3 linked regions of the Homo sapiens genome follow. The protein of the gene in region 1 interacts with the protein of each later gene in a pairwise test. Each region holds a gene or a part of one and is shown on either strand. Other genes may lie near its edges. The genes, in order: RHOQ, MORN4 and BANP.

Region 1 (3,649 bases):
GTTCGCTCCAAAGTCTGAATGCCCTGTGTTCCCCTCCTTGGGACTCTGATGTGGGTTTGGGTTATGCCAGCTTAGACTGTGGGCTGGCAGGCAGGGACTTTAGGGTGGGGGCAGTCCCCACCAGCTCTCGTTGGTCTACAATTATGCCTCATAATCGGGCACATAATCTGTGCCCCATCCCCATCCTGGACCTTTGATCTGTTTGGCTTCTCCACTTCCATCATGATTCTCCTGAGGTTTGGTGACATTCCCACGCTTTGAACGACAGCTTCCCCGCAGGTATCTCAAGCATGAGTGTTACAGGTGTGCTGAGATGCCAAGCTCTCATCTCTGAGGGGCCGGGGGAGTGACAGCCTAAGGGGGTTGAGCATGTATTGTCAGTTGCTGTGGGTGCTGTGATGTGAAAAAGGTGGGAAGCATTGCTTTAAGCCCCTCGGGGTCAGAGGCCCCATGGAGAATTGGGCTTTTGCGGTTTTGTTGTGCAGTTTGGGGTTTCAAGAGATTAGATCTAATGGTATGAAAACAAAGCCAACAAAGTAGCTCTCCACGGGGGTGTCCGTTTCCAGAAAGAGCACATGTGTTGGCAGCTGTGGGTGCTACAGAGGCCTCAGACACAACAGCAATGCTTCAGCAGGAGAGGGACGCAGTTACAAAGAAACAAGATGGAAGACCATGTGTGGCTCTTAAAAATTAAAATTCCTGATTCTCAGCTGTATTTCCTTTCTCTCTGACAGGCTTGGCTTTGCCCTAATTTGGCACACTTGGGTCAGAGAGCAGCTTTCCTTGCCCTCAGCAATTTGTCATTCCTCTTTTGGTTTCTGAGCACAGCTGCTTTGCATGTACGGAGGCTGGGCTGTCTGAGCTCTCAGGGGTCCCCCGGCTCCCTGGGTAGAACGCTCTCCTGCCCAGTGCCGGCCAGGACCTCCTGGATGCGTTCTTGCTCTCTTCAAGAACAGTGTCTTTCTCTACCATGTTGCAGTGCTCAGCCCAGTGCCTGCTACCTTGTAGGCATGCAACAAATACATCTTAAGGGGATTCATGGCCAGGCAGGGTGGCATGTTCTTGTCTGTAATCTCAGTACTTTGGGAGGCCAAGGCTGGAGGATCATTTGAGGTCAGGAGTTCAAGACGAGCCTGGACAACACAACAAGACCCCCAATTCTACTAAATTTTTTTTTTTAATTAGCCAGATGTGGTAATGCATGCCTCTGTAGTCCCAGCTACTCAGGAGGCTGAGGTGGGAGGATCACTTGAGTGCAGGAATTCAAAGCTGCAGTGAGCTATAATACAAGGCTTCATTGCACTCCAGCCTAGGCATTAGAGCGAGACCGTGTTTATTTAAAAAAAAAAAAAAAGAATTGATTCTCATTTGACTGTCAGCTTGTTTCTGCTAAAAGGTTAACCAAGGACTAAAGTCATAGCTGCTAAATAATAGCATCAGCACAACCCCTTTTCCAGGAAAGCTTCACTAATACAGTAGAAGTCTTTAAGGTTCAAAGGAGAAACAGGCACATAGGTATGGGGCAGGCCATCAGTTTTGTCTTTACACAGGCCCAGGGGCCTTAGTGATCACCAGTGGGTCTGTCTGTCCCCCAACACTCTGTCTCAGACTCCGGCCTTTGCATGTTTCCTGAGACCTCTTGCTCCCAGATCCCCTGAGGAGGAGACAGGTTGGCAGTGGAAAGAGTGTGGGTTTTGGAGCCTCCAGATGAACTTCGAATCCTAGTTCTACCTCTTTGTAGCTGTGAGACATCGGCCAGCCGGCTCACTTCTGTGAGCCTCTCTTCCTTCTGTGTGAAGTGTGGAGATAATTTATACCCTGCAGCATAGCTGTAAGGATTAGAAATGATGTATGTCGTTACCCTGTAGGGCTTGGTGCTGAGAGTGCGGGCCCAGGCTAGCTCTGGGGGCTTCACACTGGCTCAGTTCGGTTGGTGTTGATTCAATGCCTGGTGTGTGTTCCCACCTTCCACAGGAGAAGGTGGGGGATCGGGCCACAGAAAGGTCCACTACACAACTGGGCAAGTTCATCGTGTGAAATTGAGTGCTGCAGGGTCCCACACAGGAAGAGGTGACAGGGAGGAGCTTTTTGGAAGATCTAGGCTTGCAGGAAGAGATGGGGGCCAGTAGAGTACTGGTTGCCAGTGTGGACCCCCACACTGGACTCCCAGGGCCCAACTTCAGCTCTGCCACTTCCCAGCAAGGGGCTTAACCTTCGGAAACCTGTTTCCTTATCTGTCAGATGGAGATTATGATAGTACCTCCTTGTGGGGTTGTTAGATATGTTGGAGCTTCCCAGCTCCCAGATAAGGGATTTCCTCAGCCCTCAGGGCAGCTGGGTAGGGCCTGGGACAAGCCATGGCTCAGGTTGTCCTAGCTTGAGCAGTCTCACCTCAGGCATGCAGCAGTGGCTCCTCTACTCCACCCGATGTGTGCTGAACACATCATCTCATTTTCTCTGTGTGCCATGAGGTGAAGATTTGGGAAGCATTGACCTAAATGAGTTCCAGCAGGCAGAGGGGTGTGGAGAGCTCATATTCTGAGTGGGAAGAATAGTGTAGGGAGGAACGGCAGAGGGGGTGACCCCAAAGCGTCTTTTTATGGACCCCAGATCCCTGCTATCAGTGTCAACATGTGGAGCAGGGTTGATAACTAAATTATGGAGTTTTTCACCTGGTGACTGACAACTTGGTAATTAAAGAGATATTAATCTGGTGCTGTGTTGCTGGTTGATTTTAATAGAAAGAAAAGAATGTGGGGAAAGGGGTCTTTATTGCTGTCTCTGTTCCTTTTTGAGTGAATGGTGAGAGCACTGAAGCAGCCGCCTCTCCAGATCCCTAGATTTTCCTGCTCTACTCAGGCTCAGGGTAGACTGAGGGGCTTAAAAGTGGCAGGCTCATCATCAAATGACATTTTTACAGCACATAAAGCATGTCGCACCTGGTACCGCCTTGAGTTCCCTCACCTGCTCTGTGAGTAAAGGAAGCCAGTGGTGGCTGTCTCATTTTGCAGATCTGGGGAGGTTAAATGACTCGCTCCAGGCCACACGGTTGGTAAAAGGCAAAGCCGAGATCACCAGGCAGGCTGTCGGACTTTAAGCCCTGGGTTCTTGATGTTAAGTCACTCTCCCTAATCATCTGGCCCATGTTAAATGCCTCTTTTATCACATGCACTGTTGTTCAGCGTTTCATGTAAAAGGTACATTCCAAGCGTATCGCTTTTCTAGCTAGAAGAGATGGTGGAACATTGTGTATAGGTGGAACACGTAGGGACGGCTGCTAAAACGGCTCCTACAAAGACTTCTGCCCCACGTGACGTTACGGGTGTTTTGTCACTTTGTCCCTAAACCACCATGCTTCCTCAAAAAGGAGCAGGCCCGAGGTGGCGCTGATGGCCCCATTGCTCAAGTACGTGTGGAAGAAGCTCATGCCATTTGCCTAAAGCTGTGGCCCCTTCCCAGAAGAGAGGGACAGGGAAATGCTGTTTGGGGGGCTGCCAGGCGGGCCAGCTTTAGCCTGCAAATGACGGGTGTCGTTTGTGTCCCATGGGGGCTACCTCAGGCCTTTCCTTTCTCCCTTCAAGGATTTTCTTATTCAGGGGAAGCCTACCTCTGCAAAACTGTTTGTCCCTCCTTCATCTGAATATTCTCT
Region 2 (3,649 bases), on another chromosome or scaffold:
GGTCCCTCTGCTGAAGCTACTCAGCAAAGTCACCAGCACCAGTCTCCATTAAACAAACAAACAAACAAAAATCAGGCCGGGCACAGTGACTCATGCCTGTAATCCCAGCACTTTGGGAGGCCAAGGCGGGAGGATCACCTGAGGTCAGGAGTTCAAGACCAGCCTGGCCAACATGGTAAAACCCTGTCTCTACTGAAAATACAAAATTAGCTGGGCGTGGTGGCAGGGGCCTGTAATCCCAGCTACTTGGGAGGCTGGGGCAAGAGAATCGCTTGAACCTGGGAGGCAGAGGTTACAGTGAGCTGAGACTGCACCATTGCACTCCAGCCTGGGCCACAGGAATGAAACTCTGTCTAAAAAAAAAAAAAAAAAAAAATCTGGGCACAGTGGCTCATGCCTGTAATCCCAGCACTTTGGAAGGCTGAGATGGGTGGCTCACCTGAGGTCAGGAGTTCGAGACCAGCCTGACCAACATGGTGAAGCCCTGTCTCTACTAAAAATACAAAAATTAGCCAGCCATGGTGACGGTCACCTGAAATCCCAGCTATTCGAGAGGCTGAGGCAGGAGAATTACTTGAACTCGGGAGGTGGAGGTTGCAGTGAGCCGACATTGCACCACTGCACTCCAGTCTGGGCCACAGAGCAAGACTCCGTTTCAAGAAAAAAAAAAAAAGAGAGAGAACAAGCATCAGAACATATTATGATTATGATTATGATTATGATTATGATTATGATTATTATTATTATTATTTTTGAGTCAGAGTCTCGCTCTGTCACCCAGGCTGGAGACCAGTGGCATGATCTTGGCTCACTGCAACCTCCACCTCCCAGATTCAAGTGATTCTCCTGTCTCAGCCTCTCAAGTAGCTGGGACTACAGGCATGTGCCACCACGCCTGGCTAATTTTTGTGTTTTTAGTAAAGACAGGGCTTCACCATGTTGGCCAGGCTGGTCTCGAACTCCTGACCTCAGGTGATCCATCTTAGCCTCCCAAAGTGCTGGGATTACAGGCGTGAGCCACTGTGCCCAGCCCGCTTGTTCTCTTTAAAAAAAAAAAAAAAAAAGGCATGAGGCTGGGTGTGGTGGCTCATGCTTATAATCCTAGCACTTTCGGAGGCCAAGGCCAGAGATTGCTTGAGGCTAGGAGTTTGAGATTAGCCTGGGCAACATAGTGGGACACGGTCTCTACAAAAAAGTTAGTTGGGCATGGTGGTGTGTGCCTATAGTCCTAGCTACTTGGGAGGCTGGGGCAGAAGGGTTGCTTGAGCCCACAAGTTCAGGGTTGCAGTGAGTTATGATCAAGCGATTGCACACCAGCATGGGCAACAGAGCGACACACTGTCTCCTTAAAAAACAAAAAATCGTTATGACATGAGGCCAAAATAAAAATATCCTGTAGGATGTTGATAAAGAGTGGATGGGTGGCAACTATAGTTTGTTTTTCCTCTACTTAGTATTCAGCTCTTTAGTCAAAATTGCTGAGATTTTCTTTTTCAAAGTGTTGTTTGAATTACATTGGTAGCAGTTTTTACTGAGGAAAGACCTAGAGAAGTTTTCATTACAGTAAGTATATGTGTGAGTTTAAGTGTAAAACTTTGAAAGAGGAAAGAAACTAACATTTAGTGGACAGGCCCTAGCAGTGTTCTAGGTACTTACGTGTGTGTCATTTTCTTTCTTTTATTTTTCTTTTCTGTCACCCACTGACTCTCAGATATTTAATTTAATCCACCTGCCAACTATGTGAAATACATATCTTATCTCCACTTTACAGATGAGGAGACTGAGATTTAGAGATACTTAAATACCTTGCCCATAATTATACAGTGAACTCATATTTGAACTCAAGTCCTCCTGTGCTCAGAGTCTACAACACCACCATATTATCCTGGGAGGCCAGATAGGATAGTATGGTATAAGTTAGCAAGTTACTGTAAGAACTTGTGCCAGCAAGGCCAGCTGTCAGAGCTCTGATTCTAACTTTCACGTGTTAGTTTCCACATGTATGACCTTAGTTAATTTACTTATCCTCTCTGCACCTTAGTTTCCTCATCCCTAAAGTGGAAATAATAATAATACCCACCCCAAAAAGTTGTTGTGAGATGAAATTAGATAATATATTTTAAAAACACTGATGCTCATGCCGTGTGCGGTGACTCACGCCTGTATTCTTAGCACTTTGGGAGGCCGCGGCAGGTGGATCACCTGAGGTCAGGATCACCTGAGGTCACCTGACCAACATGGTGAAACCCCATCTCTACTGAAAATACAAAATTAGCCAGGCGTGGTGGCGCATGCCTGTAATCCCAGCTACTTGGGAGGCTGAGGCGGAGGTTGGAGTGAGCAAAGATCGCGCCATTGCACTCCAGCCTGGGGAAGAATAACAGTGAAACTCCGTCTCAAAAACAAAACAAAACAAAAAACACTGATGCTCACACCAGTAATCCCAGCTACTTGGGAAGCTGATGAGGAAGAATCACTTGAGGCCAGGAGTTCGGGACCAGTCTAGGCACCATAGCGATACCCATCTCAACAAAAAATTTGAAAAGTAGCTGGGTGTGTTGGCACACACCTCTAGTCCCAGCTACTGGAGAGGATGAAGCGGGAGGATCACTTTAGCCCAGAAGTTTGAGACTGCAGTGAGCTCTAATCACAATCACACTACTGCATTCCAGGCTGGGTAACTGAGTGAGACCCCATCTCTTAAAACAAAACAAATAAACAACACTGATGGAACACAGTAAGAGGTCAGTAAATGTTAGCTTCTGTTATAAAGGTATTTCAGACAGCTTCTCTGGGGTTAGTGCAATTGATTATTAGAGAGGGTTGTGCCACCTGAATTGAAATATAAATAATCTAGCACTGTCCACCATGACAATGTGGAGAAAGCAAATTTAACATATGGGTTGTTTTAGTTGAACATTTAAAGCATCACTTTTGCATAAAATATACCAGACCCCTTTTGTGCTATGAAACTATGGAACCCACTCTTTGGAACTCCATCTTGACTGGATGAGGTTTTGGCTTCCCTGGGACTTGAAGGAAAAGGAAGCTAGCTGTTGGCGCCAGGCCCCCGAGATTTAAGAATCCCATCTTGCGGCCAGGCACGGTGGCTCATGCCTGTAATCCCAGCACTTTGGGAGGCCAAGGCGGGCGGATCACGAGGTCAGGAGATTGAGACCATCCTGGCTAACACGGTGAAACTCCATCTCTACTAAAAAATACAAAAAGTTAGTGGGGCGTCGTGGTGGGCACCTGTAGTCCCAGCTACTCGGGAGGCTGAGGCAGGAGAATGGCATGAACCCGGGAGGCAGAGCTTGCAGTCAGCCGAGATCATGCCACTGCACTCCAGCCTGGGCAACAGAGTGAGACTCTGTCTCAAAAAAAGAAAAAAAAAAAAAAAGAATCCCGTCTTGTTTTGAGCTGGGAGCAGTGGCATGCACCTGTAGTTCCAGCTACTCAGAAGTCTAAGAGGGGATTGGAGGATCTCTTGAACCTAGGAGTTCAAGTCCAGCCTGGGTAACATAATGAGACCCTGTCTCTAAAAGAAAAAAGAATTCTTTCCTGTTTCTCCACCAGGTCTGGCCCCAGTACTCTGAGGAGAATGTGTCCTTGTCCTGTTGGAACTCAGTCAGATGCCTGAGGGTCAGAC
Region 3 (3,649 bases), on another chromosome or scaffold:
GGGGTGGCGGGGGTGGGAGGGCACGTTTCCGCCATAGCGCAAAAGCTGCTGAAATCCTACGGAGCAGCAAATGTAACCCCCAAGCCCTGCCCTCCCCCCTTCCAGGCCTGTGCATTGTCATGGTGAGGAAAGCCAGTCCTGCTCTGGGGCTCACACTGAGAGGCCTTTGCACCCTCGCTCCCTCCCGCGAGAGCCCCCATTCCTTGGCAGCACCATGGCCTGTATGTGAGAGGGGGACTGTGGCACTCACCTGACCATCCGCCCCCTTCCCATGAGAGCCCCACCCCTCGGCAGCGCAATGCCCACAATGACCGTCCCACCCCTCCCGTGAGAGCCCCACCCCTCGGCAGCGCAATGCCCACATGTACATGGGGACCAGGGCACTCACCTGACCGTCCCACCCCCTCCCCTGAGAACCCCATCCCTCGGCAGCGCAACGCCCGCATGTGCATGGGGACTGGGACACTCACCTGACCGTCCTGCCCCACGTGATGGATCTGGAGGTTGCCCTACAAAGAACGAGAGGAGGAGACGGTCATGAGTAGAAACACACCAAGACACCCTCAGACACGGCAAACACGCCAAGACACATCACAGGCCACTTGAGAATAACAAGAAAACCCCAGTTCTGCAAAAATTCAACCTCCAGTAGCAACAAAAGCCCCAAAACAAAATATTGACATTTCTAGGTACTATTTATTATTTTAAAGATGAACAAACAACTCAAAAAGCATTGTACTCATTCCCCTACCCTGACCCCAAATGAAAATGTCATTTTTACTTCATTTTTTATTTTGAAAGAATCTGACTCACAAAAAGTACAGAAAGTAGCAGAGAGACGTCCTATGTGTGTGTCGCCCAGCTTCCCCGAAGGGGGACGCCTTGCTGAGCTGTGCGGCATCACCACGCCAGGTCACGGGCTGCACGCAAGGAACCAACTCACTCAACCACAGAGCTACTAAGAGCTCTCCAGTTAGAAATTCATTTTCATTTGTTGTAAAAAGGAACTGTGTTGTCTGTCAGACCCTGCTAAATGTTTATTTGCAGATATCCTGTTTTAACAAAATAATTTTAAATGAACACGGTATGAATGTATGGTGACGAGACTGCATACTGTCACTCATCACAAAGCCATCGTTAGTATTATTAGCAATTTCTAACTTACTGCATTCAATTCCTATTGAAAACGAAAGACAATCACCTATACAAGATGGATTCAGTTTTGAAAACTGATGGATAAAACTAATAATAAAAAATTGAAATTCGAGTAGTCAAGATTTTTTTAGCATAAACTATAAAAAGCAAATGTGTGTTGTTTTTTTTCTTTTGCTGCTGTTTCAATTTTCCTGCATTTTCAATGACTCTAAGGAAATTAAGCATTCTGACGAACTTCATAGGCTTCCAGGTATTCAAGAACTCTGGCTGAGCTCTTTGGCAGTGAGCTTAGCCTCCCAGCCCACATCTGTCTGTGCCTTGAGAAGCAAACCTTCCCCTGCCCCTCAAAGGCAGCTCCTGCACTGGAAGGTGCTGCTGGGATCCTGCACCTCGCAGCCACTCAGGCCCCCAACTCCTGCACCTGACCTCGCTGAGCTGACAGGCGCATCTCCTGACATCTCCAAGGAGATGGTCCCTGACCCACCCACAGACACAGAACAGGGAAGGCCCTGCTCCTTCCTGGACACTCTGGCCTCCTGGGACCGTCCCCTACCTGCTCCCCGCCCTGCTGCTTCCTTCCATCCATCCATCTGACCACGTTTCTTAGTGACCTGGTCATGTCGCTGTGTGGATGAGCCCACTCATTCCCAGTCGCTCACGGCCCCCACATGAATTCGTTCCTCCCCTTTCACCTCATCCTCATTCCGCCCTCAGAACCCTTACGCATGTGCTCCCCTCTCAGGATAACCCACCGGGAACTGCTGGTGTCCAAATTAAAGCCACTGCCAGCAGACACGCCCGAGTCCCTGGTGCTCCACGTGCCACGGCGTGCATGTGTCCACAGTCTTGCTCACGGGCACTTGGGCAGGAGGCTCTGCGCCCGCTGTGAGTCCCCGATGGCAGGGCTTCTCTCTCCTCTGCTCCCCCACAGCACCTGCACCCAGCATGAGCTCCCAGGAGGCCTCGCACGCCAACATCTCCATGAGTCCCCTTGACCTCAGCACCCGGGCTTCCTAGTCTCTGCTGCTGGTGTGTGTGGGGAAGCCTGAGATCTTTGCAGCGACACACTACTATGCACCAAACACAAAGCTGGTGCCATTGTCACGACCTAGAAACAGCCATGTTCCTCATCCCCCAGAGCGCACCACGGTCACTGAGTACAACACGTGTGTGCTGCTTAGTGCCCTGTGCCTGCTGCTGCCTGTGCTGCAGGAAACAGCCCAGAGTCGAAGGACGGTCACCCGGGAGACAGTCCTGCTCTGGCATGCAAACATGGAGCATCGCAACAGGCTGGCCTCGGCTTTCCAAGAACTCAGACTGTCACTGCCGCCTTCACATTCCAGACCCCAACAGCAGCTGAGCCCGCACTTCTGAGTGCGTGGCCGGGTAGAGCTCCAGAAACTGAGACAATCACAGACCCAGCAGGTGCGTCAAGGGCTATGAGCAGCTCTCAGGACTGGCAGCATCACCTTGTGGGATTCCCCACCATCCCATGAAATCGGCACTAATCCCGTAGAGGCCACTAGGAAGCTGGGGCCACATGGCAGGTGAGGGGGTATGTCAGGTCACCTACGCAGGGGCAGACCCCATCTCGGCCACACTGGGGGCCTCCCCTGGCAGGAAGGGCAGGGCCAGACAGGGAGAGAAGGGTACTCAGAGGGCACTTCCAGCCAGCAGTAGAAACATCTACCCAGGAGATCTTTACCAAGACAGACCAGAAGCTGTGGAGACCAACGGACAGGAGGGGGAGGCAGAGAGGCCACAGAGACTGCAGGCCCGCTATGTGCACCCTGGAAGCGGAGTCCTGCAGCCCTTGCCCACGTTCCCTGTCCTGGGGGCTCCCTGCTGCCCTCGCACTGTGACACCGATGAAGGTCGGGAGCATGTGGGCACGGTGCCTGCAGGGACAGTGCTGCAGCGAGAGCTGACTCACCTCGCTGTCCTGCGTGATCTGGACTTGCTCCCCCTGCGGCACCTGGGCGATGTGGAGGTGTCCCTGTGGGATCCGCAGCAAGAAAAGACACCAAGAAGCATCAGAAGAAAATCAAAAGCAAAGGAAACAAGAAACATCTTCCGGAATGTTTGTTCTTGATTATCTGTTTACAATTCAAAAAGATAACTAAATCCTGAATAGTGCAATATAGTCTGTGGTCACTTCTTTAAATTAAGCTTTTGGTTCACAGTAGTCCCCCTCATCCATGAGGGTTTCAAGAAGCACCCCCTACCCCCACCACGTGGACGCCAGAAACTGTGGATGGTGCTGAACCCCATATATGCTATGCTTTTTCCCGCCCATATGTGCCACACAGCTTGGACATGCTGGACAAAGGAACGACTCACGTCCCGGGCTGGACAGAGCAGGACGACCAGACTTCATCATGCTACTACTCAGAAGAGTATGTAATCTGAAACTTACAAATTGTTTATTTCTGGAGTTTCTCATCTAATATTTTCAGATCACAGTTGACTATGGGTAATTAAAGCCTGGGAAAGTG

The links.
Region 2: the proteins of RHOQ (region 1) and MORN4 interact in binary tests that used the Homo sapiens proteins (3 or more experiments, as listed by UniProt).
Region 3: the proteins of RHOQ (region 1) and BANP interact in binary tests that used the Homo sapiens proteins (3 or more experiments, as listed by UniProt).

The regions. Positions count from the first base shown.
Region 1 is NC_000002.12:46,548,901-46,552,549, forward strand, and holds part of RHOQ (rho-related GTP-binding protein RhoQ), read left to right. Parts: intron 1-3,649. UniProt on the Homo sapiens protein: Plasma membrane-associated small GTPase which cycles between an active GTP-bound and an inactive GDP-bound state. In active state binds to a variety of effector proteins to regulate cellular responses. Involved in epithelial cell polarization processes.
Region 2 is NC_000010.11:97,623,482-97,627,130, reverse strand, and holds part of MORN4 (MORN repeat-containing protein 4), read left to right. Parts: intron 1-3,649. UniProt on the Homo sapiens protein: Plays a role in promoting axonal degeneration following neuronal injury by toxic insult or trauma.
Region 3 is NC_000016.10:88,034,833-88,038,481, reverse strand, and holds part of BANP (protein BANP), read right to left. Parts: intron 3,160-3,649; coding exon 3,088-3,159; intron 510-3,087; coding exon 471-509; intron 1-470. UniProt on the Homo sapiens protein: Controls V(D)J recombination during T-cell development by repressing T-cell receptor (TCR) beta enhancer function. Binds to scaffold/matrix attachment region beta (S/MARbeta), an ATC-rich DNA sequence located upstream of the TCR beta enhancer.